Linked DNA regions of Homo sapiens: region 1 is linked to region 2. The links come from fine-mapping of genetic effects on gene expression. A gene starts in region 2. The other region holds a variant in brackets. All regions are shown on one strand. Distances are from middle to middle. Region 1 overlaps TSPAN7 (tetraspanin 7). Region 2 holds the start of TSPAN7 (tetraspanin 7).

Region 1 (15,574 bases), 92 kb after region 2:
TTGCATTTCCTTAATGAATTTTGATTTTCAGAATAAATTAAGTATTGTCACTATATACAGTCCTGATAAGGCTGACCTTGTTCCCCAGAGACTCTTTTACACTGCCCTCAACCCCCGTCTGTAATAGAAGTTGTTTAGAGGCCTTTAAAGGTGACATTTTGAAGCAATCTGTAGGGATGAATAAATGACGTGGATTCTAGTCCTGGCTCTGCCTCCAACTCACTGTGTGATCTTAGGCAAATATTTTGCCTCTCCAAGCCTCAATCTTCTCATTTGTAAAATTGTGAGGGTTGGACTAGAGATGATATTGATGAAGATAGTAGCTAACATTGATTGAATGCTTCTGATGTACAAGGTGTTATTCCAAGCACTTTATAAATATCAATTTGTTTAATCCTCCCATCAGCCTTGTCAGGCAGGTACTCGATCATCATTGACTCCCTCTTACAGATGAGGGAATGCACACACACAGGTCACTTGCCAAAGGTCTCCCGGCCGGTAAGTGGTGTGGAACAGGATTATTCTAACCCAGGAAGACAACCCCTAAGCCTGCTCTCATGGCCACTGTGGCCTCCTGCCCCTCACTGTCTTGCTGCTGACAGTGATGTCTAATGTGGTATCCAGTGAGGGTTTAGAAAATGTCATGACATCCGTATTTGCAGTGAAGTCACCCCACCCATCTGCACTCATACACCAACACCAGTTTGATCCTACTCAGGCTGCTCATTGCTACTGTGATGTTTGGCATCACTTCAGTTGGCTGGAGTAGGGACAGGGGCAGCCTTGGAGCCCTTGCTAATTCCCAGGAGCTTCTAATTCTGCTGCTCTGTGAGCCCATTGCTTCCTGGATGGGTCTGTCCACCTTGACAGGGTCCCCACAGTAATCCTATGGTAGACCTGCAAACAAAGGAGTTGACAAATTTTATGCCTCTTCCAAGAGCTCAATTTAAAACAGCTGCTATTGCTGATTTGCAAATGAATGACAAAGCTGTGCACCTGTAGTCCCAGCTACTTGGAAGGCTGAGATGGGAAGATGGCGAGCTCAAGCCCAGCCTGGGCAAAATAGCAAGACTCCCGTCTCCAAATTAATTAAACTTGTATTCAAGGGATGATTTGAAGGAAAAAAAAAAAAGAAAATGAATGACAGCAAACTTTCTCTTGAACAGTGAGCATAGGAGGGGCTGTGCAGAAAGTAAGGAGATGACTATTTTCTAGCTGCAAAACAACGCTTATTTTTCCCAAAAGCCAGAGCAAACCTCTGGATTTATAACTGTCTAGAAGCTTAACAGAATGAAAGATTCTCTCAGGAGGCAATTCAGAACATAAAAGGATTCTGGACGGTACAGATTCTTGGTAGCGTGCATGGCTGTGGAAATACTTGGAAGCACTCAATAATAACATAAATAATAATAAAAATAGCAATGGGAAAATTACTGCTTTTGTTTGACATTTCCTGTTTACCAGACCTGAATGCCTGGTTAGTATATTAGAGAAATTATCTGTTTAAACCTTTCATCAGCACAACAGTTTACATATGAAGAACCTGAAAGTATAGGGTTGTTTTTTGGGTGCCTGCACAATTTATGTTTAAGTTAAGGTACTTCTTGTCAATTACCTGGCAGTGAATTACTGACCTGATAAATTCCAGACTTATTGGTCAAACAGACTTAAAACTCTGGTTTTTAAACTAGTAATAGTTGGTGTACTTTCTATAAAAAAAAAACCTGTAAATACATTAAAACTCTGGAAAAAGTAATCTGGCAAAAAGTATAGATCCAATACCATAGAGCTTTTCTATAATATCTTTTGTATTACATGTTCATAAAAGAAAGAAAAGGCTGCAGGATTTTGTGGCAGACAGGATGTGGCTATGGCTTTGGTAAGTAAATTTTGTTGCAGGGTTGGCTCCTACAAATATTAATGTGTGTAGCTGTGGGATTTTGTGAAGGTAGTGTTTGTTTTTACTCTCCCTGAAGTGGCAGTGGAATAGAGTAGAAATATTAGGAGCAGTGAATGCACGTAAAACAGGGGTTCTTAGCAGGGGCATGTCAGAAACCAAAGGAGGGAGGTGTATGTAGTTGGAGAAAGTGCGTTCGCAATTACCATTGCTTGGAAGAACTTGTGAAATGCCAGATAATCTTAAAGGAGGGCATCAGGTATTTTATGCTTACCAAAAGTTGAGAAGCTCTAATTACTTCCTTGTTCAAGTGAATGATGATGTGTAATTTACATGCTGTAATTATATGCATTCATGTGGAGTGGAATGTCCCCAAATTTCAAAAATTGCATTAAGGTGATAGAATTTGGGGATAATATTTATTTTAAAATTCTGCCTTTAAGAACGAGAATGTGCAAGCACAGGTGCAATTATGTACTTCATTGCTTTTATCTGTACTTCTGGGACATTTGTGTCTTCATATTGCCAGAGACCAGTGGCCACGGGAAAACAGATTGTCTCAGTTCACGGTCCCTCACTGAGGTCAGAGCTTAAATTTCCCAGTGTTCCACTTAGGAAGAACAGTGCTAATGTGTATCTTTTAAGATAACTCAGCCTGAAAGCCATCTGACTTTCAGTGAGAATGAGGGGTACACTAGGGGAGAAAATAGGCATCAAAGTTTGGAGAGGGCTGTGCTGCCTATAGATTTTCTTCTAATTACATTCACCCAGAAATGCATACTTTAAAAAAATTATGCTTACTACTCTTTTAACACAGAAGCTTCTACTGGTTGGTTTTGCTAGTTAAAATCCTTCAGTTAAGCTCTGTAAAATTATTCCCCCACTTGGATTAAAGGGATAGAACACATGCAGTTAATACATAAACCCTCATGGTACATTTGTCCTGAGTTTTACTGAAATATTTTTGGTAGAGATGGGGCTTTACCATGTTGGCCAGGCTGGTCTCGAACTCCTGACCTCAGGTCATCCGCCTGCCTCGGCCTCCCAAAGTCCTGGGATTACAGGCATAAGCCACCGTGCCCAGCCTTGTCTGTGATACAAAATTTTGTGTCACAGAATTCTATTTTTAACACTATTACTTTCTAGAAGGTACCAAACATACTATAAAATAAGCATTTATTGAGTGTGTACTAAATTTAGGACACCATATTGGGTGCTCCTGGAAATGTAAAACACAATGATTTGGTCCCTAACCTCAATTGTTTGCATGCTATTAAGAGGACAAGATGGACATTTGTGAAGTTTCAAGACAAATTGAAACTGTAATCTGCAAAGCAACATAATTGTGGCAGCATTGACTGAACAGGCTTTCTTTTAGCCCTTTGATGTTTAGTCCTTATTCTCATGGTTTGATTATGGAAGAGTCCAAGATGCTGAATGTTAGTCACAGATTGAGTCCTGTGGTTCCGGCAGCTTGTCAACTCTGGTTGCTATACGTTTGGATAATGTTAATAAATTCATTGTTCAGGGGAGCTTACAGTGTAGAGAACCAGGTTGAGCACAAGTCAGATACACAAAATACAATTAACTATACCAAGTAACCAAGAAAACTAACTTATAAAAGTTCCTGGCATGGTGTAGTCAAAATGACTTGGCCTATGATTAAGGACATTGGGTTTTTGCTTTGTCTTGGTCCCTAACAGACTGTGGGACATGGGGCACTACTTAGCTTTCTCTGAGCCTGCATTCTTATCTTGAAATGGGTATGCTGATTATGTGAGCCTCATGGGATTATTATGAATACTAAATGGAATTTTATGAATGAATATACTTTATAAACTGTAAAGCAGCTTACAAATGTTAGAGGATATTTTAATTTCACTTGTTGCATAAAATCCAAGAGCCATTTTTCTTCCTCCTACTGTCTCTAATGATTATATAATAACATTTTTTCACTTATTCTTTTTCTGCTTGTGTTTTGAGGTTCTCCCTCACAATACACTCCAATCAAAATAAAGATTATTTGCATCACTACATGTGTCCCCTCCTATTATTCCTGACCCCTTCATGGACAGTCACTTTTAGGATTTCTATTGCTGTAGCTTAGTTGAGCCATTTACATTTTATTTATTACTTATAGTTGGGATCTTGCTCTGTTGCCCAGGCTGGAGTGCCATGGCACAATTATGGCTCACTGTAGCCTCAAACTCCTGGGCTCAAGTGATTCTCCTGCCTCACCCTTGGAGTAGCTAGGACTACAGGTGTGGGCCACCATGCCTGGCTAATTTTTTAAATTTTTGTCATCGTGACAGGGTCTCGCTGTGTTGTCCAGGCTGGTCTCAAACTCCTGGCCTTAAACAGTCCTCCCACCTCAACCTCCCAAAGTGCTGGGATTACAGGCGGGAGTCACCACACCCAGCCAGGCATCTGCATTTTAACTTTAGCCAGGCATGGTGGCATAAGCCTGTAATCCCAGCTACTCTGGAGGATGAGGCAGGAGACTCACTTGAGCCCGGGAGGTGGAGGTTGCAGTAAGCTGAGATCACACCATTGTACTCCAGCCTGGGCAAGAGCAAAACTCTGTCTCAAAAAAAAAAAAAAAAAGAAGTAACAGATGCCAATATTATGTTATTCCTGTTAGGTAAGGAGGGTCCCTGGTGTAATCCCAAATGTGCTTGCTTTTTTATTTACTATATTATTTACTTTTTAAACATTTATTTTTATTATACCCTCTAGCATTTTGGAAGGCACTTATTTTATATATGCTTGGTCCTTAGGCCCTTTCTTCACCCCAAATGAGTATGTTAACAGATTGTGACACAGTGTGACACCTCTTCGTATGCTGTATTGTCCACACTGACACATTTCTGATGACCGCCAAGCCCTCATTCTTGCATGGGAAGAGTCCCTGCTGCAGTAATGTTAGCCACTTGCTGAGCTCACAAGTCAGAAGGGGGGTGGTGGTTCAAGAGGTGTGGTGAGAGGCTCAGTGATGGTGAAAGGATATCCAAAGGATCCTGCCAATGCCATTGGATCATTTAAGAGAGACCTACTTTGAATGGTCCATAGAGTATGGTGAGTTTGGCAACAAGCCAATTCCTTCAAGATAGTGTCTTCATTTATTTGAAGTCACTTGGCATGTAGCCTTATGTGGTCAAGGACCTAAGCCACACTTTTGGGAGGAGCTGAGGGAAGGGCCTGGCCTCCTGAGAATTGCCAGTATTGCACCCTCCTTGTAGGCCCCCTGGTTAGCCAACCAGGGATTCTGTTCTCTCGCTGGTACAGGCTGCTTGTGGCTACCCGAGTTGGGTTTCCCCAGGGTCCGTTCAGGGCAAAGGGTTGTGCTGTTAATAGGTCTATCACCACAGTTTTCTGATGCTGTACAGGATGCAGTGTTTAAAGTCAGGCTGAACACATAGGCTGCTTCACAGTCCCTATCCTTTATTTCAGGAGGAAAGGGATAGCCAAGTCTCGCAGTGACAGGCATGTTAATCTGTGGGTTGCCCGGCTCACAGCCTTTTCTGACCATCTGTTCTCCTAGCACTTGCTGATAAGATGGGGCATTGGGACATGGCCTTGCCCTCATCACAGCTGATGGCTTCCGGGAGGTCACCTGACCTGAGACAGGCCCCTCAGATTCTCTCTTCCATGAATTTGAAATTTGTGTTCAAGGCTGCTCATCAGTCTCTGTTGGATGTTTGAATTGGGAATGCTCTAATGGGAGGCTTTTGGACAGAGAGAGCCAGTGTGCATAGATAGAGAAGAATGCAGCTGATGTGCAAGAGAAGTACATCCCAGAGCCCTGACTATAGGGAAGGGTAGCTCCTTTGGCTTCCTGTCCCAGGAAGTGCCAGCGGCTTGTGCTTCCCTACAGGATGCCCATGGCCCTCAGGAAGCCCCTTGCTCAAGGTGGCTTGTATCATCTCTTGCTAGTAGCCACATGATTTGTGGTTAAGATACTTTACGTTTGAATAATGCGAGGCAAAATGAGTTGAGAGAATGGTTTACTAAAAATAATATCAATTGATGTAAGAGGTCAGAATATAGCCATGGTGCCTGCTGGTCCATCCTGCCAGCAAGCCAGTGCAGTCCTTGGTCACAGTCACTCACAGTGTGTGCCAGGGCTTCAGACAGCCCTTGGCTGTGAGTGAAGACATGTGGTAAGAGCCAGGGGCTTTCCTGTGCCCAGGAAAGCATGTCCTTGGCCATAACTTGTGTGGAGCACAGGTAGGACTCAACCATTCTGGCCCTTCAATGCAGCTTTAAAGAGTGGTCACTGGGCCAGTCACTTTCAGCTGACACTGTCAAAGGGGAAGGATTTCTGCTTCTTGCTGAGAAGCCTTAGCTTTCTAAAATAAGTTGTTTTGGTGACTCTTGGGGAAGGAAGAGGCTTATATCACTGGTCTTTGAGTTGAGGGACCTGATTACCAGGTTATACTTTTCTGGACTTCTCATTTGTCTAAGACCACAACAGTCATATTTATTTCTAAGCACAACATGGAAGGAATGCAACAGCTTCTGATGCTGTTTCCAGACTTGACTATTGCATCTCTCTAGCCGTTTTTACATGTAAGGATCCCTGCCCAACCTCTCCCATCTCATGCCCTCTTAGCAACCTCAGAAACCAAAGAAAAATGCCCTGTTAATGTGTCCTTGATGAGAGCTATTTGCAAACAAAGCACTCTTTCTAGTCATATTTCATTATCAGAAATGTGATTACATATATATATATATATATATATAGTTAATAACAATCCCATGAGGGACTCATCTCTTTTTCAGGGAGCAGATGACTGGGGATGCAGATAAGGTGTACCCAAAGTCTTAGAATACAAGGTAAAAATGTCAGTAATGGCCGGATGCGGTGGCTCACGCCTGTAATCCCAGCACTTTGGGAGGCCGAGGCGGGTGGATCATGAGGTCAGGAGATCGAGACCGGCCTGGCCAACATGGTGAAACTCCGTCTCTACTAAAAATACAAAAAATTAGCCGGGCGTGGTGGCGGGCGCCTATAATCCCAGCTACTCGGGAGGCTGAGGCAGGAGAATGGCATGAACCCGGGAGCCGAAGCTTGCAGTGAGCTGAGATCACACCACTGCACTCCAGCCTGGGCGACAGAGCGAGACTCCATCCCCCCAAAAAGAAGTCAGTCATAAGAGGTATGTGGAAAATCTTAAGCACATTTAGAAGAGGATGAAATGATTATTGTCTTTGAGTGTCAGGAAAGGCCTCTTGGTGAAAGGACATCTTCGTTGTGCTTTGAAAGGCAGGTAGGACCTGGCTGAGCAGCGATGGGGCAGGAGGGCTGAGCAGGTAGAGCCCTGCATGTATCCTGCAGGAGCAAGCTTGATGGTTGTGTTGCCTCAGGGTCCAAAGTGTAGTTGTATTTGCCCCCATAGCCATGTAACGAGCTATGTAATTTTCTATAGGAATAGATCTCTGGTGCAATATACCATTACTAATAGCACCTTATTAGATACTTCCTCTTTTTAGTTCCAATATATGTCAGGTTTTTGACAGAATCCTTGTCTATATGTGAAAAGTATGAAGGTTGCAACTATAGTTTTTGTAAATTTATCTTTAACCAGCTTCACTGATTCTTAAAGTCATCCAGGATTTCTGACTCTAAGTGATGTAGAGTGTATTTGCTTATGGAAAATAGAAGAATTAAAATAATAAGGCAAATACTCCTTCCAGTGCCATATCCTCTTTTAAAGAACACAGCTCATTTTCATTGCAGCCCCATTACACTGAACAGGCTTTTCTCTTGCTCTTAATGTGTCAAAATTGTATGACCTATCGCTTCCTTTGAAGATCAAAGGAAATGAAACTCCAGATCTGGGAAAATGGTTTCCCCAATTCCTGTGCTGTTAATGCTCCTATTCATCCATGTATGAAAATCCAGGGAGATAATTGGCTAGCAAAGGCTAGCCAATTAGCTAGCACAAGTCTTCTGGGACAATAGTCAGAATGAGAACAGGTTTTGAGAAACAGTGTAACTTAGGCCTTCCTGCTGGGTTCCCAGTCATAGGACTTCTGTCCCATGGTTGCATCCAGAGTCTCTATGGGGCTGCCCAGAAAGCTGTTTACCTTCTGTTGTAACACCTCCCAAGGCAACCCACTCCATTTTGGGCAGTGCCTATTATTAGAAAGTTCTTCCTTGTAATGAGCCAAAAATCTGTTTCCCTATAACTTTCCCTAATACTGGCTTAAATATAGATTTTTGAGGACTGGCCTAGAAACAAGCCACCAGGTATAACATGGTTTCTCAAAGAAAATACATTTTGAGTTTCAAACAAGTAATGTATAAATAATCCAGAACACAGCCCAGTTCATAAAATGGAGTATGCCCAATAAGGGGCACGGGAGGCCCGTCCCAGGAAAGGAGAAGGGAAAAGGCCAGTGCCCCCAGGGTCAGTCTGTAGAGTCCGTTTCTTCCCACTCTGCGTTTACCCATGTTTCCTGGCTATTGACAATTAGAAACTGCCCAAGAAACCTCGCTGTGGAAATTGGTTCAGGGTACTGGTTTCCTCACAGCTCACTCGTAGGAAGCCCTTAGGCAGTATAAAGAAAACCAGGCTTCTCTTTAGCGTTCACCTACCTAGACGAGAGGGTCAGTGACTGGGTAATATTGGACAGAGGAACTCAGCCCTTGGCCTTGACTGCTGTTACTTACACTGCCGCAAGAGGCAGAATATAATAATGGCCAAGAAAACTGCCTTCGAGTTGGACAGAAATTGATTGGACTCCGGGCTATACCACTTATTTGCTTTGTGACTTTGAGCACGTTGCTGAAAGTCAACAACCGAAAGCCTCAGGTTTTCATCTGCAAAACAGAGATTAAGAATAAATGTGATGAAGCGTATAAGGAGCACGGTACTGCTCAATAAATGTCGTTTATCACACACATACATGGTTAACTCTGTTTCCAGACTGTGCCCTTCGTTCATGAACAGCCAATCAAATCCCCCTCCCAGGCTGTGGGGTGAGCAGATAC[G/A]ATGCGGTTGCCTTATCTCGTGACTCAGCCCATCACTTTTGGTTAGAGCTACTTTGAAAGGCAATTCCACAGTTTCAGAGTGGGTTCTTCTCATATATGTTGCACCTGTGGCCTCTTGTTTCTCTTCTCAGGGCCAAAACCAGAGTACTTAAGTTTCTTAAGCTTTCGTTCTAGAATGTGCTTGGTGGAAAACCAATACTCAAGACACTACAGTTTTCCATGTGTTTGTCAAGCTTTATTGATTCTTCAGATCAGTCCTCCCATAGGTTTGTTCCTGGTGCTAATGATATTGAACATTTCTGGTTCACGTCGACATACACATGAAGATATTTATTTCCCATACTGGCTTTTAAAGTATCAAACTATAGCTTGGAGTGGAACATGCTTTCATTTCTATAGATTTACCTGCTTGAAGGAGGGGAATAATGCATAGCCTTTTATTATTTTTTTTATTATACTTTAAGTTCTAGGGTACATGTGCACAACGTGCAGGTTTGTTACATATGTATACATGTGCCATGTTGGTGTGCTGCACCCATTAACTCGTCATTTACATTAGGTATATCTCCTAATGCTAATGGATAGCCTTTTAAAATAAATGAATTATTGGCCATGCCTATAGATCTTATTTATTTTTAATTATGGCAGCCAAATTCTCAGGGTTGATTCAAGGAAAAATCAGTGCCAGGATGGACGATGCTGGCTTATGAACTCCTCTTATGGAAGAGTTAGGAGTAAAGGGTTGAGGAGAAAGAACCTTCTACAGACAGGCTAAAGAGGACATTAAAGGAAAGCAGTAGTGGAGGGTCAGGGCTTTGAGTAACTGTTCTGCCATTTAGTGGCGATGACCTTGGGCACGTTTCATAGGGTTATTAAGAAGATTGAGCCAGATAAAGCATTAAAGCACTTAGCATAGTACAGGGCACACAGATAGTAAGCACCTCAGTTGTACATTTTTTAAGAGACAGGGAAATCTTACTTAAATGCTGTTCATTATCTTGGCTCCTAACCATCAGCTACAGACCTCATAGAGTTATAGGATATTAGAGCTTCAAATTACTTTTCTATTAGTGGTGATGGATTAGAAGGAACTATTCCCATGCTTTCTCATTTAGTCCCCCTTGTGGCCAAAAGCAGACATTTATGAAGCAATGTGCTGGATTAGAAGCAATTGGCTAAAGCACAGGTTTTTATCTGAGTGCAACTGCCAGGGCCTTACAGTAGTCAGGCCCACCATTTAGCCTCCTTGATGCAGTGCTAGTGAGAATAGACTTTATGCCTCCAAAGCTCATACTTACTTACCTGCCTGCTGTCTTGTATTTGGTCAGTTAGCAAATATTTAACTAAGCCCCTCCTGTGAGCCGGCATTTGTATTGGCCCTGGGGATACACCCATGAATAGGATGAATAGGACAAAAATCCTGCCCTCACAGAACTTAACATTCATTTTGGTAGACAGACAAAGTGAGTAAGGTAAATAGTATACAAAGGTGATAGGTGCAGTGGCGAAAGATAAAGCAGGAGCCCCGTGGGGGAGTGGAATTCTGGTTTCAAATACGGTCATCAGGGAAGGGCTCATGGAGGAGCAGAGACCTGAAATGAGAGATCTTGGAATTCCAGGCAGAAGGAAGAGCAAGTGTGAAATCTCTGAGGCAAGAGCATGCCAAGAGTTTTGAGGGTGAACACAGAGGCCTGTGAGGCTGCAGCAGAGTGAACCAGTGGGGGCTGCAGGTCAAGTAGGACCTTGCAGGCCAGGATAAGAACATTGACTTTCTCTCTGAGAGATGAAATGTTGTGGGAGGATTTTGAGCAAAGTCACGTATTATTGGACTTAGGTTTCAGCAGGATCATCTCAACTGCTGTGTTGAATAGAGAATGGGGGCAAGGGTGGATGCAAGGGGAGATGGAGGCTTGGCCTAGGGTGGTAGTGGTAGAAGTGGTGAAGTGTCCTCTTTGTGCTTTTCCAAAATGTCTGATTTTTAGGGGGGCCAAAAACATATTACTATTACCTTAAAGTTATTTTTTTCATAGTACTCTGTCAATATTAGACATCTGAATTTTCCCTGTACATTGCATTTAGTAGCAGTACCATATATATATATGCAGTGTGGACATATGAGTGTTGAAAGGAAAGCTAATTAAGTCACTAATACCAGTTTTTAAGTTTTTTTTTTCCTTAAATCACCTCAGGAGAAAGTTAGGATCATTGAAAGGAGAATCCTACCTTACTATTTATATGAGAATCTTGCTCTTGAACACTGCATACATGCTTTCTTTTCCAGGTTTTTCCACATTTAATAGTAGGTCCTCTTCTAACATTATGTCTTATTGGCTCCAGTTTCACCTGAAAGGAGGCATGAGTTCTTCAGACCAACCCACCTCATCACACCCCATCAATGCATAGCCACATAAAGCGTGGGAATTCAGTGACTTTTTTGCCATCTGAGTTCTAGCTTCTTCCTGTGTATAAAGTATTTATTAGGACTATGGTTTTGGTTTCAGTATTTTGAAGATGATAATCCTATATATAAATTATGCAAAGAAGATTCTCCCTTTTGAAAATAATGGAACTCCAGGAAAGCCAAATAGGTTCAACATAATTATGAGAAAGAAGTGTGCCACTGTCAGATTGGCATTTATGGAAAAATTGTTACGATTCGTTTTTCCAGATTCATTCCCATCCAAAATTCACGAGGACACAGCCAATAAAAGGGAGCTGAATTTGAAGAAGAGCTCGTCACTAAGATTCATTCTGTATTTATTGAGCTGATTCTGTTTGATGGATATTAGGACAGAATATTTGAACAGCATGTTGTCTTGGAAAATCAGGTACGAGGTATGGCTGAGGCTTTGGTGGATATAAAGGAGGAAAGGATTTATTCCTTCCCCACATGACTCTTAAAATCTTGATGTATTAATACAATTAATACAGGGCAGAACAAATGTGTAGTCAGTACAAACATTCTGTCAACACACATTAATATGTGGCTCTTGTTTATAAGCTTATTCTGACATGATCTTTTTAAAAAGTATCTTATTAGTGTAGAATTTGATCCGTCTTTTCACAGTGCTGGTTACCTGAGGAATGGAAGCAAGGGAAGGGGTTTCTTGCCGTAACTCTTCTTTCACTGGTGGTTGGCTATCTGCTAATGGCGCTAAGACTGTTAGTGCTCCTGGCACTCACACGGCCTTAGTGTGTATTCAACTGTGCCAAAAGATAAAGGAGGTGGGGCATACAGGGAATCCCCCAAACATTAAGCTTCTGTCACTTTAGCCACTACAGCTGGTGCAGATTTCTAAGTACATAAATCTCCTGGTAAGTGGCTTTGCTGGCCCCAATTCCTAATAGGCATTTACCTATATGATGTCTATTTATATATCTGGGTCATCATGAAACCAGAGGTATGAGCTATATTCATATAGTCTTAACCTCTGGTTTGCTTGCTTCTTCCTTTCACATGCTCTTGGACTCTCAAAGTTGAAATAAGACCTTCACTATTAGTATAGATCAAAAACCTAAGTCCTGTTTTAAACATTTGCTAGGAGAACTCAACAATGCTTATAAAGAAAAAATAATGCCAAGAGGCTCAGAATAAGCTACCCTTAACATTCTTCTCTGATGTAATAGAACATTTCTCAATGTACGGATATGTGTGCAGTTAAATTCTTTCTTTTCTTTTTGCTTCTGGGCCTTTTTGGGGAATTTAGTTTTTAAGGGAGAAGAAACCTAAGTCTGTAAGCTTTTAGGGTAATATAAAAGAAATGAGAAACCAATTCAATAGGGCTGACCATTTTTTTCTCTTTTCCCAGTGTGATATACAGAGTACCTAATAACATGTTCAGGAATTTTCTGTGACTCTATTTGTTGAATAATGGAATTAAGTATAAGGTAGAGCTGTGTGGGCCTCATTTGAAGGAGTTTAGTTATTCAAGTAGTAAAAGGCTCTCTTAACAAGGTGGCATTTATTATTATTTTAGCAGCTGTATAGCCCTGATTTTCTGTGACAGGCCAATTTCAAAGATCTTTACCGTGTTCAGATTCTGTTTTTAATTCTGAAAATACTGTCACCATATGGGTCCATTTTTACCACTTCATGGGCCCACAGGACATTAGAGAGTATTCAGTCTCTAGCCAGCCACCTCCTTGAGCCACCCTCCAGCTAAACTCCCCAGGATGAGTACAGAGCCCAGCAGGTGCAGCCCCTTGGTGAATGCTGTTGACCAGTCTTTGGCATCTGAGCTAACAGTTGAATTTGATATTTGCCCCTCTGAGGACCACTGGGCAATTCAAAGAAACAAGTAACTCTAGCACTGGAAGGGCCCTGGGGCTAGTCCTGCCACTTTGTAGATGATGAACTAAGACACAGATATGCAACATGACTGGTGTAAGCTAGTGGTTGCAACTTAGAGAAGGAAGTATTGTTTGCTGGACTTACAGCATGCCTGGAGCCATTTCCTATGAAATGATTAGTTGTTTCACTACACATATGAAGAGACTGTAATAGACCCACAGTCAAAGCTAGAATTTCTGACTTTTCATAGTGCTATTCAAAGCCATTTTCATATTTTCAAAAGCATCTGTGATTTGTTATACCTTGTTAGACAATCTGCATTTTAGACTCTGGCTATCTGATCCCTGATAAAATCCAAATAGAAGCTAGAGTTTGTGACAAATCACTCTAGCTTCATGACCTAGCTCCTGAAACTTGAAGTCTATGAATTGGATCTAGGATGTAATAATATTAAAATACAAAATGTAATCTCAGTGGGCTGTACTGGGTACAAAAATAAAGAGTACCCTGTCTGGTCATTAGTGTATGCAGGATCAATGAATTGTGCTGGTGTTTTGTTTCCCATAAGTCTTTTTTTAAAAAAATAAGATCTTGCTCTGTCACCCAGGCTGGAGTGTGGTGGTACAATCTTAGCTCACTGCAGCCTCGACCTCCTGGGCTCAGGTGATCCTCCCACCTCAGCCTCCCAAGTAGCTGGGACTACAGGCATGTGCTGACACACCTGGCTAATTTTTTTTTTTTTTTAGAGATGGGGTCTCACTATGTTGCCCAGGCTGGTCTTGAACTCCTGGCCTCAAGTGATCCTCCCGCCTTGGCCTCCCAAAGTGCTGGGATTATAGGCACAAGCCACTGTGCTTGGCCTTGTTTCCAATAAATCTTTAAAGGAGAAAATGTCTCTTTCTTCCATGTCCTACTTCTCATATTGGCAGCCACCTTTATAGACTTGTCCACTCTGTTTTGCGTCTCTTTGCTGTCCCCTGTCTTCCAGCATTGTCCTCTCATGTTCTAGTGACAGTCTTCCTCAAGCCTTAGTCCTTGAACTTCCCACCATCTTCTGCTTCTGTTTCCCAAGATTCGTTGTTCCCGCTTAGCTGTCACTTCTGGCCTCAGCCCTCACCTGCAGCTCTGACTTACTCCTAAATTCAAGCCCCACATTCACAACTGCCTTCTGAACATGTTGCCTCTGTGACCTTTGGTCACCCCAAACCCAATAGAAAACAGAGCCTGGACCAGACGGTCTCTGGATTTCTTATTGGTTCTCAGATTCAATTTTAACAAGTCAGCACTTAAGATTATCTCACTCCTCTCCCGCTTCTTAACTTCCCTGTCTCCTTTTAATGATACCACCAACCTGTCAGCCATATAACATGTATTATCTTCCATACACACACACACACACACACACACACACACACACACACCCACAGACGTACACATGTATACATGTACACGAGACAAAAATGGAGTAAAAAGGTTGAATTGGTCAAAATACTTGCCTAGAGAGAGTTCAAAGCACATGTCTTGATAACAGTGGGATCTTCTTATAAAAAGTAAAGCTTTTGTTATGCTAGTGAGCTTATAAATTTTTGCGTGTCTGTGTAAAACTACAAACGCATGTCCTGCTGGGCATTCTTCCTACCCTTTCTTACCCAGGAGCCTCTCGCCACCTGGGAAAGCTGACAGAACAGTGGGCTTCAGGTCCAGAAATGAGCCAACTTTCCTACCCCTGCTGCTGGTGGTTTATCAGATACAGGGAGAATCTTAGAAACTCTCTTTTGTTTGCTTAAAGGCACAGCTATAAATATATTTCAGCGTGACTGAGTGTGTCAAGTTTGAGATTCTGATTTGTTGTATCAGAATGTTAGAGCTGGGAGGGAAGCACTGGCAATCAGGTTTCTCTACTTCCTGATTTTATTGAAGAGTGAGCTGAGGCCCAGAAATATCAGGTGATCTGCCCAAAGTCACACAGCTCATTAATGACAAAACTACAACTGAAGCCCTGGTCTTCTAAACCCCAGCCAAGAGCTCTAACATTTTTAATTCTAATTTTTTTTTTTTTTTGAGATGGAGGTCTTGCTATGCTGCCAAGTCTGGCCTCGAACTCCTGGGCTCAAGTGATCCTCCTGTCTCAGTCTCCTGAGCAGCTGGGATTACAGGCGTGAGCCACCACATTCAGCTAACATTCTTTTTTTCTTTTTCTTTTTCTTTTTTTTTTTTTTTTTTTTTGAGACAGAGTAAAGCTCTGTCACCCAGGCTGGAGTACAGTGGCATGATCTTGGCTCACTGCAACCTCTGCCCTGTGGGTTCAAGTGATTCTCCCGCCTCAGCCTCCCAAGTAGCTGGGATTACAGGCACGCACCACCACAGCCGGCTAATTTTTGTATTTTTA
Region 2 (15,574 bases):
AGGGTTCCAAAAGAGTGAGGAGAAGATGGTGAGTCCCCTTGAGGCCTAAGCTTAGCACTATCACAACGTCATTTTCACTGTTTTCTATTGTTCAAAGTAAGGAATAAAGCCAGCCTAGATTCGGAGAGAGAAGAAATAAATTTTACTTTTTATGGGAAGAGCTGCAAAGTCACATTGAAAAAGGTCATGGAAAGGGAGAGAAAGAATTTTGGCTAGTTTTACAATTCATTACAGTATGTTTTACCTAGAGACCAGAAAGCTCTACTACTCCTGAGCTGGGACCCACAACCCATCACTTAATGCTGATCTGTGAGTGATGCTAACACTGCTGCTTTTGGGGGTGCTGCTCCCACTGAGTAGGAATACAGGATGCCATAGCTTTACTAATGCTGTTAAAACTGCCACAGATGTTTTGGAAAGAAATGGCTGCTATAGTCACTGTTGCTGCTGCTATTACTGCTGGAGGGATTTCCAGAGACAGAAAAAAGAAGCTTATTTTTCTCCTCACCTCATAGTCTCTCCACCAGTGCTTCCCAATAGCAAACCTAACAGGAGGCTAATTAGGAAAGGAATCTGAAAAATGTAGTTTGTGGGTTTCTAGCTCCCTGTGATACAGAGAGAACATTGAAAGTATAACTGGGAGCCAAGTGAAAAATTGCTGCACAACAATATAATGTTTTAAACTGATCTCCTGTGTGGAGACACAACATAAGCGTGGAAAGCAAAGCCATCAGTGGGACAGTTTCTGAATCCAGTGGACAATGATATTTAATTTCTAGGAGAGGTATTTAAGAAGGGATATGTTCTCCTTCAGCTCAGTGAGAAAAAGGTAATACATAAAACAGAGCACCTCTAAGTAACTTTGTTCTAGACATCCAAGAGCAGATTTGTGTTCATTATAAAGGGAAGAACACTGGAGTTCTGTGCATGAGGAGCAACAATTATATAGTTGACCTCAAAAATTGTTTTCTTCACATTATATTCCCATTTGGTTGAGATCTGCAGATTATTCTTAAGTTATAATTTTTGTACCTTGAAATACACAAAAATTTTACTTGCATTGCTCTATATAACAGTAGTCACAGAATAACTATAAGGTCCTGAAAATACTTTTTCAAAATGTGTTTTTAGGGTGTAGCCTCTATACACAACATTTTAGAAATGTTTTAATTTTTATTATAAAAATAATTCTTGTATAAAATCAAGTGAGCGCCTGCAGAGGTAGAATTTCTTCTTAATACCATACAGAGATGGTCATGTATGTTTATCCTGATTTTTTCCCATAAACACTCTAATGTATTTTGTGATTATAATCACTGAAGTAGGATATTATAATTCTCTTCTCTAACTTAGAAGTTAAAAATTATGTATAATGTGTTTTGCCTTGTAGATCTTGAGTTTTAATACAGTTAAATGTATCTACTATTTTAAAATTGCGTCATTGAATTCTATAGCATGGATATACTGAAATTTATTTTATCGTTTGTCTTCCCATGTAGAGTACAAACTCCCTTAGGACAAGGGCCTTGTTTTTTTGGCTCACAGCTATATCCCCAGTGCTAAGAAAAGTGTCTGGCAAATAGTAGGTACTTAAAAAATTTGTAGAATGAACGAATATATGGCAAAACATTATTGATGAATATTTAGATATTTTCCATTTTCACTATTCCAATAATGAATTTTGCAATTAGTATTCTTGCAGATATATTTTATACATGTATTTATCTTTCTAGGGCAATTCATAGAGAAGGAATTACTGGGTCAAGGAACAAAACCAAATTAAAGAACTCTAACCCCTCTCAAATTCGTCCCATGTTCAGGAAGTACCCAATGTGAAGGGAGGTGGCACTTATATTTACAAACCCAGTCTCCCTAGCTATCACTTGAGTGCTACCACTGAAAATCTCACGAATGTAGTCCTGTTACTAAGTGGCATTGGCTTTTTAATTTGTTCTGTTTTGGGGAAGTTGTCTGAGTCTCTTATGTTTCTACCTCATGTTCTGATCCATTCAACTGTCATTCTGTTGAAATGAGAACAGTACCTTTTGTCCCTGCTATTTTTTGTTAAGCAAGCTATATTGGCTACAAAACTTTGTGCTCCCAATATCTTTATGAACTTTTTTTCTAATCTGGCTTTGTTAAAATCATCCCATTAACCCCCAAGGCTCAGGGTAAATCCCTATGGAGGAAAGGTAAGGGCTCACATCATTCATTTTATGCCAATATTGGGCTATCCTCAGAACAGTTCTAATCCTCTGACGCTAACCAAGGCTCCTTGAACCAAGTTTTCAAAGCTCAGTTCTTTCCCATCTTCAGTCGAGTGACTTGCAAACATACCCTTGACAGGTCTAGTCTCAGTCCTGTAGATGTTTCTGAATCCCAGGGTAAAATGTCATTTGGGCTGCTCAGGTAGGGATCCTAGAAATACTCAGATATATTCATAAATATAGAAACAGATGAACAGGGGTATGTTCAAATTTCATATCAGCAAGTTTTCAAGATAGTTCAGGGTTCCCCCCCTTAAATCCTAAAACTTTAATATTTTAATCTTTGGGGTAGAAGGCTTCCTTTATAGAATATTCTTTTCTGATTACAAATGTAATATATGATCATTTAGAAATGTTCAGAAATAGAGGAAATATAAAATAGAGAAAATAAAATCACCTATAACCTCCTTCCCAGAGGCACCACTGTGAAAATTTTATACACATTTTCATCCAAACTCTTTTCTATATGTTTTTACATAGTTAAAGTCATATTGCATATACTTTTTTGTTGTTGTTTGCCCTTTTCTTCATAACAAAACTTTTCCTTTTTGACTACAAATGCTCTTCATATACATACTTTCTAATAATTGTATATTAGTCCACTGTTTGGATATACCACATATTATCAGGGTTGTGTGTTTTAAAAGCTGTCTTGCAAGTTTACTCAGAATAAAAAGTCAGTCATATTTTCTTTCCTCACCCAGATCCACTCAGTCCTGAGTGCTGTCTATTCTATTTCCAAACAGTTTATCTGTCCCAGAGGTTTTAATCCAAGCTGGAACATCTGGGAAGCTTTTAAAAAATACTGATTGTTGGGGTCCTGCCACAGACTGATTCAGTCAGAATCCCTGAGGGATAGACCTCAGGTATTCACATACCTAAAATCTCCCCAGTGGATTTTCATATAGCCAGAGTTGAGATGAAGTGGTCAGGCCAGCCCCTTCTCTCCAGCCCCACTGCCACATCCCTAGGTGGAGCCCTCCCTCAACTCCCAATTAGGCAAGTGCAATTACCTCCTAACTCTTTTCCTGTTTCTCGTCTCTTTCTCTGGCAACGTCTCATCCTTCATACTCCTTCCCAAGTTACTTTCCTAAAACACAGGTCAGATCACATAGCTCCCCTATTGAGAGACCTTCCACTGCTCCCTACTGCCTACACTGGTGAGTCTAATTTGGCCTGAGCAAGGCCTTCTACCACCACAGCCCAACCTATATTTCCATATTTTTTCCTCCTCTAGGTCCTTGTATTAGTTTGTTTTATTTTGCTGATAATAGAATACCTGACACTGAGTAATTTATAAAGAAAAGGAATTTATTTCTTACAGTTATGGAGGCCGAGAAGTCCAAGGTTGCAGAGCTGTATCTAATAAGGGCCTTCTTGCTGATGGGGACTCTGCAGAGTCCTGAGGCAGTGCAGGACATCACATGGGGAGGGGGCTGAGCATGCTAATGTGCTAGCTTAGGTCTCTCTTCCTCTTCTTATAAAGCCACCAGCTCCCCTCTCATTATAACTCATTAATCCATTAACCCATTAATTCATTAATCTATAAATGGATTAATCCCTTCATGACTGCAGAGCCCTCATGACCCAATCACTTCTTAGAGGCCACATTTCTCAATACTGCTACATTGGGGAATACGTTTCAGCATGATTTTGATGGGGGCATTGAAACCATAGCAGTGTTCTAGTGTGCCTTGCCACTTTTCTTAGCGAGCTTTCTGCTTTTGTTCAAACTGCCTTTTTTCACACTGTTCCTAACCTGTAATGATCTCCTTCTCCAATCCTCAAAGAACACCATCATAGTATTCATACTTCAAGGCCCATTTCTAATATCATATCCCTATTCAACTAGTCAACAATCATCTATTGAGGGACTACTGTGCACCATTCATTAGTTCAACAAGTTTTTGAGTTCTACTGTATCTAGGTGCTAAGGAGATAAGAGTGAACAAAACAGACAGAAATACCTTTCCCCGTAGAACTTACATTTTAGTAGGAGACACAGGAAAGAAAAAAACACCTAAGCACATTTTCATAAATAAGAAAATGTTAGATAAGTGCTATGCAGAGAATTAGAACGTATAGTGACTGGGTGGCTATTTTGGTTTGAAATAGCCTCTCTGAGGAGGTGACATTTATACCGAGATCTGAATGACAGGAAGGAAGGGACCAATCATTCAAAGTTTAGGGGGCAAAGCATTCCAAAGAGAGGATCAGCCAATGTGAAGGCTCTGAGGTGGAATGAAGCCTACTTGTTTGAAGAACAGAAAGAAGGCCAGAGCAGCTGAAGCACAGATCCAAAGGGGGAGTAGTGGCAGAGAGAGTCAGAGCCAGCTTATATACGCTTTTGTGGTTGTTGTTGTTTTGTTTGTTTTGAGACAGAGTCTCACTCTGTCGCCCAAGCTGGAGTGCAATGGTGTGATCTTGGCTCACTGCAACCTCTGCCTCCTGGGTTCAAGCAATTCTCCTGCCTCAGCCTCCTGAGTAGCTAGGATTATAGGCACATGCCCCCACACCCAGCTAATTTTTGTATTTTTAGTAGAGACAGGGTTTTGCCATGTCGGCCAGGCTCATCTCGAACTCCTGAGCTCAAGAAATCCACCCGCCTCAGCCTCCCAAAATGCTGGGATTACAGGCGTGAGCCACCACGCCTGGCCTCATATATGCTTTCTAAGTCAGGGCAAAGAGTTAAAATTTGATTCCAAGTGCAACGATGAGAAGCCACTAGATAATTTTAAGCCATAGAGTGATATGAAATGGTTTGTGTTTGAACAAGATCACTCTGGTTGTTGTGTGAACAAGAGATAGAGGGGGTAACAGTAGGAGGAGGGACCAGGTAGATGCTTTGGTAGCAGTCCAGTTTTCCTTGAACTACTTGCTGAATTTGAAGCAAATAAAAAGCAAACACTTCTCTTACTCTTAGGCAAAAGATTAAAATTCTTAATGTCACCTAAAAAGACCTGGATGGGCTGGCCTCTCTCCAGCCTTCTCTATACCTTCATTGCCTCCTGCTATTGAGCCTTGCTGACCTTCCTTCAGCTCCGCAACCTACATCATTCCTTCAGGCCACAGGACACTTGGACTTGCTGTGGTTACATATTATTTCTGTGTGTTATAAAATACACATAACATGCAATTTACCACTTTACCTATTTTAAGGTGTACAATTCAACATTAAGTACATTCCCACTGTTGCACAACCATCACCACTATCTAGCTCCAGGACTTATTCGTCACCACAAGAATAAACCCCATATCCATTAAACGGTGACTCTCCATTAGGGTTAGCCCTTGGCAACCACTAATCTGCCTATGGATTTGACTATTACGGACAGTTCATATAAATAGAATTATACATATGCATCCTTCTGCATCTGGCTTTCGCTCAGCATAATGTTTTCAAGGTTCATCCAAGTTGTATCATGCATCAGTACTTCATCTCTTTTTATGGCTGAATAATATTCCCTAGTGTAGATATGCCACAAAATAGATTTCATTAATCTACTTGTCACTGGACATTTATTTAGGTTGTTTTCATATTTTGGCTATTGTAAATGGTGCTACTGTGAGTTGCTTGGTGATATGGCAGCTGTGATTATATATTGATGCATTATAGATCAGTGAATCTTAGACACGTGATAGTTTCCTACAGCTGCTGTAACAAAGTACCACAAGCTGGGTGGCTTTAAAAAAAACAGAAATGTATTATCTCACAGTTCTAGAGGCTAGGAGTCTGACATCAAAGTGTCAGCAGGGCCATCCTCTCTCTGAGACTCTGGGTAGAATCCTTCCTTGCCTCCTCCTAGCTTCTGGAGGTGACCATCAATCCTTGGCAGTCTTTGGCTTGTAGCTGCATCACTCTGATCTCTACTTCTGTTGTCACAATGGCCTTCTCCCTGTGTGTCTTTGTGTTTTCCTATGGCCCTCTCCCTGTGTCTCTTCTTTTAAGGATATGAGCCCTTAAAAGTGCTTGGATTATGGGCCCCCACTACTCCAGTATGACCTTGTCTTAATTATATTTGCAACAACCCTATTTCCAAATAAGATCACATTCTGAGGTACTGGGGTTAGGACTTCAGCCGCACCTAGCCTGGACTTCAATATATCTTTTGGGAGGACACAATTCAATCCATAATACATGACAGACATTACTGTGCATCTGACTCCCCTGGAGATCTTGTTAACATGGGCTTGGAGTGGGGCTTGAGGTTCTGCATGTTCAAACAGCTCTTCCAGTGGATGTCAATGCTGCCAGCTCAGGGTTAGTGTGACTAATATGTTCTGGTTTGCGCAAGGCCTTCCTGGTTTTAGCAATGAAAATCCTGAATGCAGGGAAACCCCTCAGTCCTGGGCAAACTGGGATGGCTTGTCACCCTATATATATGTCATGGGCCACAATTGGAGAGCAAGGATCTAGCTACAAGCTATGTTAATTTATCTACTAATTACATTACTGAATATTCATATTTATCTTTATATTTAAATGGTTTATTTTTGCTAGAACAGTCCAAGTTTTCAAGAATCTGGACCTAAGAGATATTCCAAAAATGCTCCAAACTGTGAGACGGTGAGTTAGCTTAAACTGATGGGTGTCTTCTGTGAATGTCATATATTAACTCACCAAATTATCTATGATGCTTAGCAGTGTCACTGTTGGGCTGAACATTGAGATTTCTGACCTCTTTACAAAATAATTATACATGGCCAAGATCTTTTGATGCTAAGGATACCCACTGGGCTTGAAGTCTTCAGTATCCTTTCCCTGCTGCTGCAGCAGTTGGAATCAGCCTGGAGTCTGTAAGAATGAAAGAGAAAGCTCCTCTCTGAAGTTGGGTTTAAGTTCATTGCAGTATGGGGCAATGCCCCTCAACTCTTGCTTAATATTCAGACCACCTGAAGAGCTTCTAAAACGCGGAGCTTTCACCCCACACCAAATGACTCCAAATAGCTGGGATTGGGCACAGGCATTCATAATTGTTTTAAAACACCAGGTGATGCAAATGAGCACCCAGCATCGAGAATCAGTGTGCCAAGACCCCTTTATAACAGACACCTTGCTCAACCTGTCCCTTCTTTCACCTGCACCTATATTCCACCCTTGTATGCCCACATACCTTTTTGTTATAGTTGACAATTTCCTTAAACAGGTTCTCCTCTTCCTCATATTTTTGTCCTGTTCATACAGTTACCTTATTGACCTGAGACCACATATAACTGGATAGAGGTAATAATTACTCCTGTAACAACTGACCTTAGCAGGCTTTTCCCAAGCCTTATTGACTCTGTTTTTCACTCTTTCACAAATATGTATCCTTAACATCATCATCCACGATTGAGTTAACCTGTGATAGTGTTGCTGTTTTTGACTAGTCTCTTAGCAATCAAGCTAAATCTCCCACTGAATCTGTGTGTTCCTCTACAAACCATATCTGGGTGGAATGTACGTTTTTATTGTGATATAATTAATATATCATAAAAGTCATCCTCTTAAAGTATACAACTCAGTGGTTTTTAGTAATTCACAGTATTGTGCAACCATCATCACTATGTAATTCTAGAACATTCTCATTACTCTAAAAAGAAGCCGCTTACCCATTAAAAGTCACCTCATTCCTGCCTCCCACTCGCTGCAACCACTAATCTCTTTTGTCTCTATGGATTTGTCTATTTTGGATATTTCCTATACATGAATCATTCAATATGTGGTCTTTTGTGTCTGGCGTCTTTCGCTTAGCATATTTTCAAGGTTCATCCACGTTGCAGCATTTACCAGTAGTACTTCATTCTTTTTTGTGGCCGAATAATTTTCCGTTGTATGGAGGCACCGAATTTTGGTCATCCACTCATCAGCTGACGGATATTTGAGTTGTTTCCAATTTTTGGCTATTGTGAATAATGCCGCTATAAACATTCATGTATATGGTTTTGTGTGGGCATATATTTTCATTTCTCTTGGGTAAATACCCAGGAATGGAGTTGCTAGATCATATGCAAACTCTGTTCAACTTTTTGAGGAACTCCAAATTGGTTGTGAACATTATTTTTTGACCTCAATGCAGCTTTCCTTTACAGGAGGGAGGTGGACTGTACTTGTTAGCGCGCTGCAAATGATTCTCAGGCATATTAAACATTTTTCTGTATTCTGTTAAACATTGTATGCGCAGCAAGAATGACGCCTCATACAGACCTTTCTTGTCATTTCGTTTTATTATTTCAAAATGTAAGACAAATCTGAAAAATGGAGGAGCCTGCAGATACCTGTGGTGGCGAGGATTTGGGGTCTGTCTGAGCTCCGGCGTTCCTGCCCATCCCTCCAGCTGTATCTCTGGCCACCTGTCTGTTCCTGGCACAAACAAGGCCTGCTGGTTGCCAAGGACATGACTACGGGGCCATTTCCATGTGAGAAGGCCCTGGGGGGTGTCAAAATGCAGAAACGTGACTGATGGGCAGCGGGGCACCCATAAACTTCCCATAGCCAGGTGCAGGCATACCTGCAAATGTAACGCCCAACTGTGTACAAAGCAGAAATCTAAATGCCAGGGCGGACTGGGAGAGGTTCCCGTGACCTCTGACCCGGCCTCTAAATTCTCCCATTCCCTCCCCACTGTCCTGCCGCGCCCCGTGTCGCCTCGCCTGGCCTCGCCTGGCCTCGCCTCCCTCCTCCGCTGGGGGTCTAAGCCTGCGCAGTATTGCGAACGCGGGCGGCGTTTCCCGCATGCGCAGTCACTGCCCGGCCCGGCTTTTTCAGTAGGAGCCCCGCGCGGTGCGCGCTCACGCACGCGCACGGCCTCGCCTGCGCGCTCACGAGGCCTCTCGCGGCACGCGCCCCCGCCCCGCGCCGCCCCGCCCCGCCCCGCCTCTTCCCCCTCCCGCGCGCCCGCCCGCCGCCTGCCGCCGCCGCCGCCGCCGCCGGAGCTCTGTAGTATGGCATCGAGGAGAATGGAGACCAAACCTGTGATAACCTGTCTCAAAACCCTCCTCATCATCTACTCCTTCGTCTTCTGGGTAAGTGCCCACGCCGGGCCGGTGGCCGAGTCGCTGTCCATCGGTCCGTATGATGATGCTCTGAGAAAAGAAGTGGGGAGGAAAACCCAAACCAAAAATCAAATCTGGGACCCCTCTTTAAGGAGACAGGCGCGGGGTGCTGGGTCGGGGCTGCAGGATGGCAGGGTGCGGGTCGGGGCTGCTGGAACCCTAGACCTCGCTCCGCGCAGGCTGCAAGGGGCTGCGGAGTGTCGGTGACTGCAGGTTGTCGACCTTCCAAAAAAAAAATGTTAATGCATTAGTTTCTTTTATAATCTCCCGGGATAGGGTCAGCTCCTGGGGAAAGTTGCGGGTTTATTCGTCTGTTTTCCTCGCTGTACACCTTTCTCTCCCTTCCCCTACCAGCCGGTTCGCGGCGCCTCTTGGAGCTAACCTGTGGCGGGCTAGGAGAGGACACGGGAGCGTGGGGTTTAATCTCAGATTCCCAGTTATTCCTGACCCCACGGGGCTGCGGGAGGGAGGCACCAGAAGCACCGTGCCTGCCTGGCTGGGCAAGGGCGACCGAAGTCTCCCAAGCGCACGATGGGGAGCAGGCGTTGTCACCGCGTGGAGGCGCACGAAAGGGAGAGGGTCTTACATAAGCCGGGGGCATCTTTGAGGTTTCTTGGTGACCCAAGAGATGAGTCTTTGGATTCCTTTCCCACCTCCCTGCATCCTTACACTCCCTATCTGGTGGTTCTGTCACTGCATGAGCACAATCCGCAGCGCCCTGGCAGAGGGTCCCCTCCACTTGGTGATAGAGATAGCGCCCCAACTCTACTCCCCATCTATCCAGTGCTGCCGCCGGTCCTTGAAGCTCAATGCAGAAGGGTGACGTCACCCCTCAGCCAGGGCCGCGGGGGGCTGCGTGGTGCACCTCGCGGAGGGATGCGCCTTTCTGCGCGGGGGAGGGGGGAGGAGGAGGAGGGGGAGGAGGAGGAGGAGGAGGGGGCTCCAGGCTTGTGCCTTACCTCATCCTGTTTGGCAAATCATGGAATCAGTGCAGGGCTGACACTGCAGTGATTCACTGAGAGAGGTGCGTGGTACTTAAAGACCATTCCCTGTTATTTCTCTTTTCATGTCGGTGACCCCGTCTTCCCTAGTTCCTTACGCCCATAATCAAGCTACAGCTACCCCGCAGGGGAATGAATATCGACCCTCTTCCCCCCTTGTCCCCCAAATCTGGGTCATTTTAGCTTCTACGGCAGTCATTTTGAAATCTGAGGCTCTGTAGGAAAAGCCAGTTCAACCTTTGCTTGTTTTCTTCTTGCACCCCTCACCCCCGCCCCTCACCCACCACCATATATTAGCCCTATTTTTGCTTTGAAACTGGAGCACAGTGCTGTATGAGGTACCGAGAATCAGCTAGATGGCAAACCGGACTGTTTGCAATGGTCAAGGAAGAAGCAGAGATTTATTGAGGATCAAAAATATTCCTAATGCACCCGGACATTTCCTTATCGCTGGCGTTGGTGGTTCTTCAAGTCAGGGAAGGTATGGACTCCCCAGACCACACATACCAGGAGCTCTGCAATGAGCTAGGATAGATTAACTGGCATATTGCACAAGGCAAACACAGAAACGGACTTTATTTGGACTGACAACGACACAGGTTGAAATGTCTCAGTAGTGGAATTGTGAGCTATGCACAGATCATATCATCTTATGCTCTGCCTGTAAAAAGCAGTAACACATGCTGATTGCTGAAACTTCCCAGTAGCCATTCCTGGGAACTGGTTTAGCTTTTTATGTGTTTCCTTAAATCTCTTTTTGTTTGGCCCTTTATCATTTACTTGACTTCCTATTTGTTACTGGAGTGAATCATATTGGGAGGGGGGAGGTATTTTTATCTTCCTTAAAAATAAGGTTAACAGTGCACATGAAGAAATATTGTTCTTTCAGAATCACTGCAAGCTGGTAAAGAAGGGGGTCTTCCAGGCTGAGGCTTTTCATATGAGCACTTTAACTCTCCTTGCTTACATTCCACCCCTATGAATCTAATTACTTAATGCCCCCAATACATCTTAAACAATCACTGCATTTTATGTCCTCCGGAAGTTCCTTGATGCCTTCATTTTAATTTTTTCTACTTTCAAGATTTTCATAGTCTTAAATGTTAACCTGGAACATTTTCAATAGTTTAAATACCAAAGCCAGTTCTGGCTTTGGTTGTTGTAATCATTTCATACTTACAACCAAAAGAATAAGATCTCTTCGGATGTGTGAGGATATTTTAAACAAGACGTTATTTTTAAGTAGCCTTATTGAGGCATGATTCATATGCCATAAAAGCCACCTATTTAAAGTATACGATTCAGTGAGTTTTAGTATAAGTAGCACATATTTTAGTATATAAGTGGTATATATTTCTGTATATTTAGTATATTCATAGATATGTGCAACCATCACCCCAGTCAATTTTAGAACATTGCATCATTTCACAAGAAACCTGTTTCTTTAGCTGTTATCCCGTTTACCCCCCAATTTCAACTTCCCACCCTCATGCCCACCCCCTGCCAGCCCTAAGCAACCACTACTTTCTGTCTCTAGAGATTTCCATATTGCAGGCATTTCATATAAATGTAATCATACAATAGTTGCCCTTTTGTGACTGTTTTTTTCACTCAGCATAATTACTTCAAGGTTCATCCATGTTGTAGTGTATATCAGTACTTCATTCCTTTTTATGGTTGAATAATATTCCATTGAATGATTATAGCACATTTTGTTTATCCATTTGTCTGTTGGGGGACATTTGAGTTGATTGGGTCATTTAGCTATCATGGATAATGGTGCTATAAACATTCATGTACAGATTTTTGTGTGAACATGTCTTCATTTCTATTGGGTATGTACCTGGGAGTTGAATTGCTAGGTCACATGGTAATTCTAAGTTTAATTGTTTGAAGAACTGCCAGCCTGTTTCACAAAGCAAAGCACTCCTTCCCTTTGACCATGAGGATTCCAATTTCTCCACATCCTTGCCAACATTTGTTATTGCCTGACTTTTTTATTATAGCCTTAGTAGGTGTGAAGGTGGTATCTCACTGTGGTTCTGGTATGAATTTCCCTGATGTGTAATGATGCTGAGTGTCTTTTTTATGTGCTTGTTGGTCATTTGTGTATCTTTCTTGAAGAAATATTTATTCATATCTTTTGACCATCTTAAGATGTGGGGTTTTTTTATATTAAGTAGTAAGAGCCCTTTATATATTCTGAGTACAAGTCCCTCATCAGATACATGATTTACAAGTGTTTTCTCCTATTTTGTGGGTTATCTTTAGATGGTGTCCTTTGAAGTACAAAAGTTTATTTTTATGAAGTCCAGCTTACCTATTTTTTCTTTTTTTTTGTTTATGCTTTTGGTGTCATATTTGAGAATCCTTTGCCAAAACCAAGGTCACAAATATTTACCTGTTAAATGTTTATAAGAATTATCTCTCAGTTCAGTAAATGCAGTTGGTAAATCTTTCTTCAGCACTTAGAACTATGTCTGGCACATAGTAGGTACTCAAATATTTGTCAAAACTTCTGGGATTATGCTAGGTAGTTTACAAAAAGATGACCTTACTGGTCTTGTTTGTTTGTTTGTTTGTTTGTTCGAGGCAGAGTCTCGCTGTGTTGCCCAGGCTGGAGTGCAGTGGTGTGACCTCAGCTCACTGCAACCTCCGCCTCCTGGATTCAAGTGATTCTCCTGCCTCAGCCTGCCGAGTAGCTGGGACTACAGGTGTGTGCCACCACGCCCGGCTAATTTTTGTATTTTTAGTAGAGACGGGGTTTCACCATGTGGGCCAGGATGGTCTCGATCCCTTGACCTCGTGATCTGCCCGCCTCAGCCTCCCAAAGTGCTGGGATTACAGGCGTGAGCCACCACACCCAGCCGACCTTGGTGTTCTTTAAAGTGGAAGGTGGAGGAAAGATTAGACAGAATTATTTCCTTTGTGTTCGTGAGTTGTTTTAATAGGAATTTTTCCCTTTCATTACCTTAATTTAGATTTAGAACTAGAAGGCATTTGAACTTAAAATGGTGGTAGAGCAGTAGCATCATAAAGGTTGACATACTTGAGCATATGTTAAACCAGAAGTCTACACTTTTGAAAGAGAGATTATTGTTTTATCTGGCTTTCTCTCCTGTCTATAATCACACTCTCTCTCTGAGGTGTTTCTCTAAAGTGGTGGTTCTCAAAAGGGGGCAGTTTTGCCCCCCTCCCATATTTGGCAATGTCTGGAGACATTTTTGGCCATAGCTGGAGGGGAGGATGATACTGGCCTTTCGTGGGTAGAGGCCACAGATGCTGCTAAACATCCTACAGTACATGAGACAACCCCTCACAACAAAGAATTGCCTTGCTCAAAATGTCAACAGTGTAACCAACCTCTGCACTACTGGACTTACATAGCAGTAAGTCCTGTGAAGAAAAAATGGAGCGTTATGCAAAACTGTATATTTATTGGTGTTTGGAACCACCGTAGCAGAGCATGCGCAACACAATCACGTGAGAAGAAAAACATTCTCTATTGTGTACTATATAATTATTTGAAGACAAAAGGTAGGTACCTCTTTATATAATTGTGTTTGAATGGATGGGATGATTTGTCTTTTGGTTAAATAATATCACCTGAATGCTGTGTAAACTGATCCTTCATTTCTCCTGATTTGTATGTTTTATTTTCAGGTCTATAGAAGAGGAGGGAAAAACACACCTAGGAGTAAGTTATCCTGTGCTTTAAAGACTAGCAAACAATGTCAGGCTTATAGTAGGTTTACTCACTAAATACTTATTTCCTTAATGAATGAATGAATTAATGAATAAATGAAATTTTATTGACTACTCTTGGGCTCAGTTATTTATTTCAACTCACCTCAATGGGAAAGTTTTTTTAAAACAATGTTATTTCTAGTCTACCTGTAGTGATTTAAATGTGCTCCTCCAATAAATATGTGAAAAGATGGAATAGCAGATTTCACAAGGACTTGCTTATCCTAATGATAGTTCAATCATTATATTTTTGTGATCAGTTAGTTTGTCAGACATTTTGGTTATTTAAATTTTTAATTAGAATTTTTTAAGCATGAATAAAAAAGATCTTGCCCTATATATATATAACAAAATATCCTTTCTTCACAACCAATGTAACTGTTTCAAGATCAAGCAAAGAAATGTAATAAATATTTTGCTTACCAGGTGAATTTTTGTTTTATTTATACATTTTTAATGTATTTTAAATACTCATCTGAGTTCTAAGCTAAGATTTAAATCCACCATGTGTGAAGAGAAGTTCCCCTTGCTTAATTCAAGTGTATATTGGGCCTGATTTCTTGATTATCTAAGGAGGTAATTAGCTTATCAATAGTGCTATCAAATTCTTCTATGATAAAATATCAGCGATTTGTTTTTCATTTGAGAAACATCACTAATCTTTTCTGGAAAAATAATTTAAAACAATTTTTTTTTTTGTCCAGAAAGTTTAGGTACTTGGGATATAAATAGAGGGAAAAGTCTTAAAGAGCAACTCCTAACATTTTAAAGAGTGTTTGAATTTGGGCACTGTATTAGTCTGTTCTTAAGCTGCTAATAAAGACATACATGAGACTGTAATTTATAAAGGAAAGGGGTTTAATTGACTCACAGTTCCACATGGCTGGGGAGGCCCCAAAATCATGGCTGAAGGCGAATGAGCAGCAAAGTTACATCTTACATGGTGGTAGGCAGGAAAGCTTGTGCAGAGGAACTCCCATTTATAAAACCATCAGATCTTGTGAGACTTATTCACTATCAGGAGAACAGCATGGGAAAAACCTACCTTCATGATTCAATTATCTCCCACTGGGTCCCTCCCACAACAAGTGGGAATTATGGGAGCTACAATTCAAAATGAGATTTGAGTGGGGACACAGCCAAACCATATCAGGCACATACTTTAGTTTATAGTTATTCTTTTGCACATCAATACAATTCAGTCATTCACTGAATGTCTATTACATGTCAGGTATTGAGTAGTCAATAGAATGTGTACCAACGTTTACTAGCTGCTGCTTTTGGCATTTTACCTGCATTTTAAAATAACACATGTATTCTATTTCTCAACTTTTCAGTTTTAGATGTTATGTACTGTCTTCCCACTATGGAAGATGAAGATTTAGCTCTCTTGCCCTTTTCTCCCATACTTGTATCTTCCCTATATTGTAGTAGACCCTAATATATCATTTTATCATTGTCATATTTTGGTTAGAGTGGTCGTCAGTGATTTCATTATGTTAATGACTAGGTAAACCTAGTCAC

The links.
Region 1: its variant is fine-mapped to the expression of TSPAN7 in whole blood (TOPMed, PIP 0.96).

The regions. Positions count from the first base shown.
Region 1 is chrX:38,644,434-38,660,007 of GRCh38, forward strand. The region is part of intron 1 of TSPAN7 (tetraspanin 7); the gene reads left to right. Among named protein-coding and RNA genes, the nearest start is that of TSPAN7, 91 kb to the left of the region's middle. RefSeq lists a silencer at 13,313-13,362. The variant G/A (reference allele first, on the strand shown) is at 8,895.
Region 2 is chrX:38,552,356-38,567,929 of GRCh38, forward strand. TSPAN7 (tetraspanin 7) reads left to right here and starts at 9,187. Exons shown (of 8, transcript NM_004615.4): 1 at 9,187-9,272. The coding sequence starts at 9,192. RefSeq lists an enhancer at 9,287-9,788.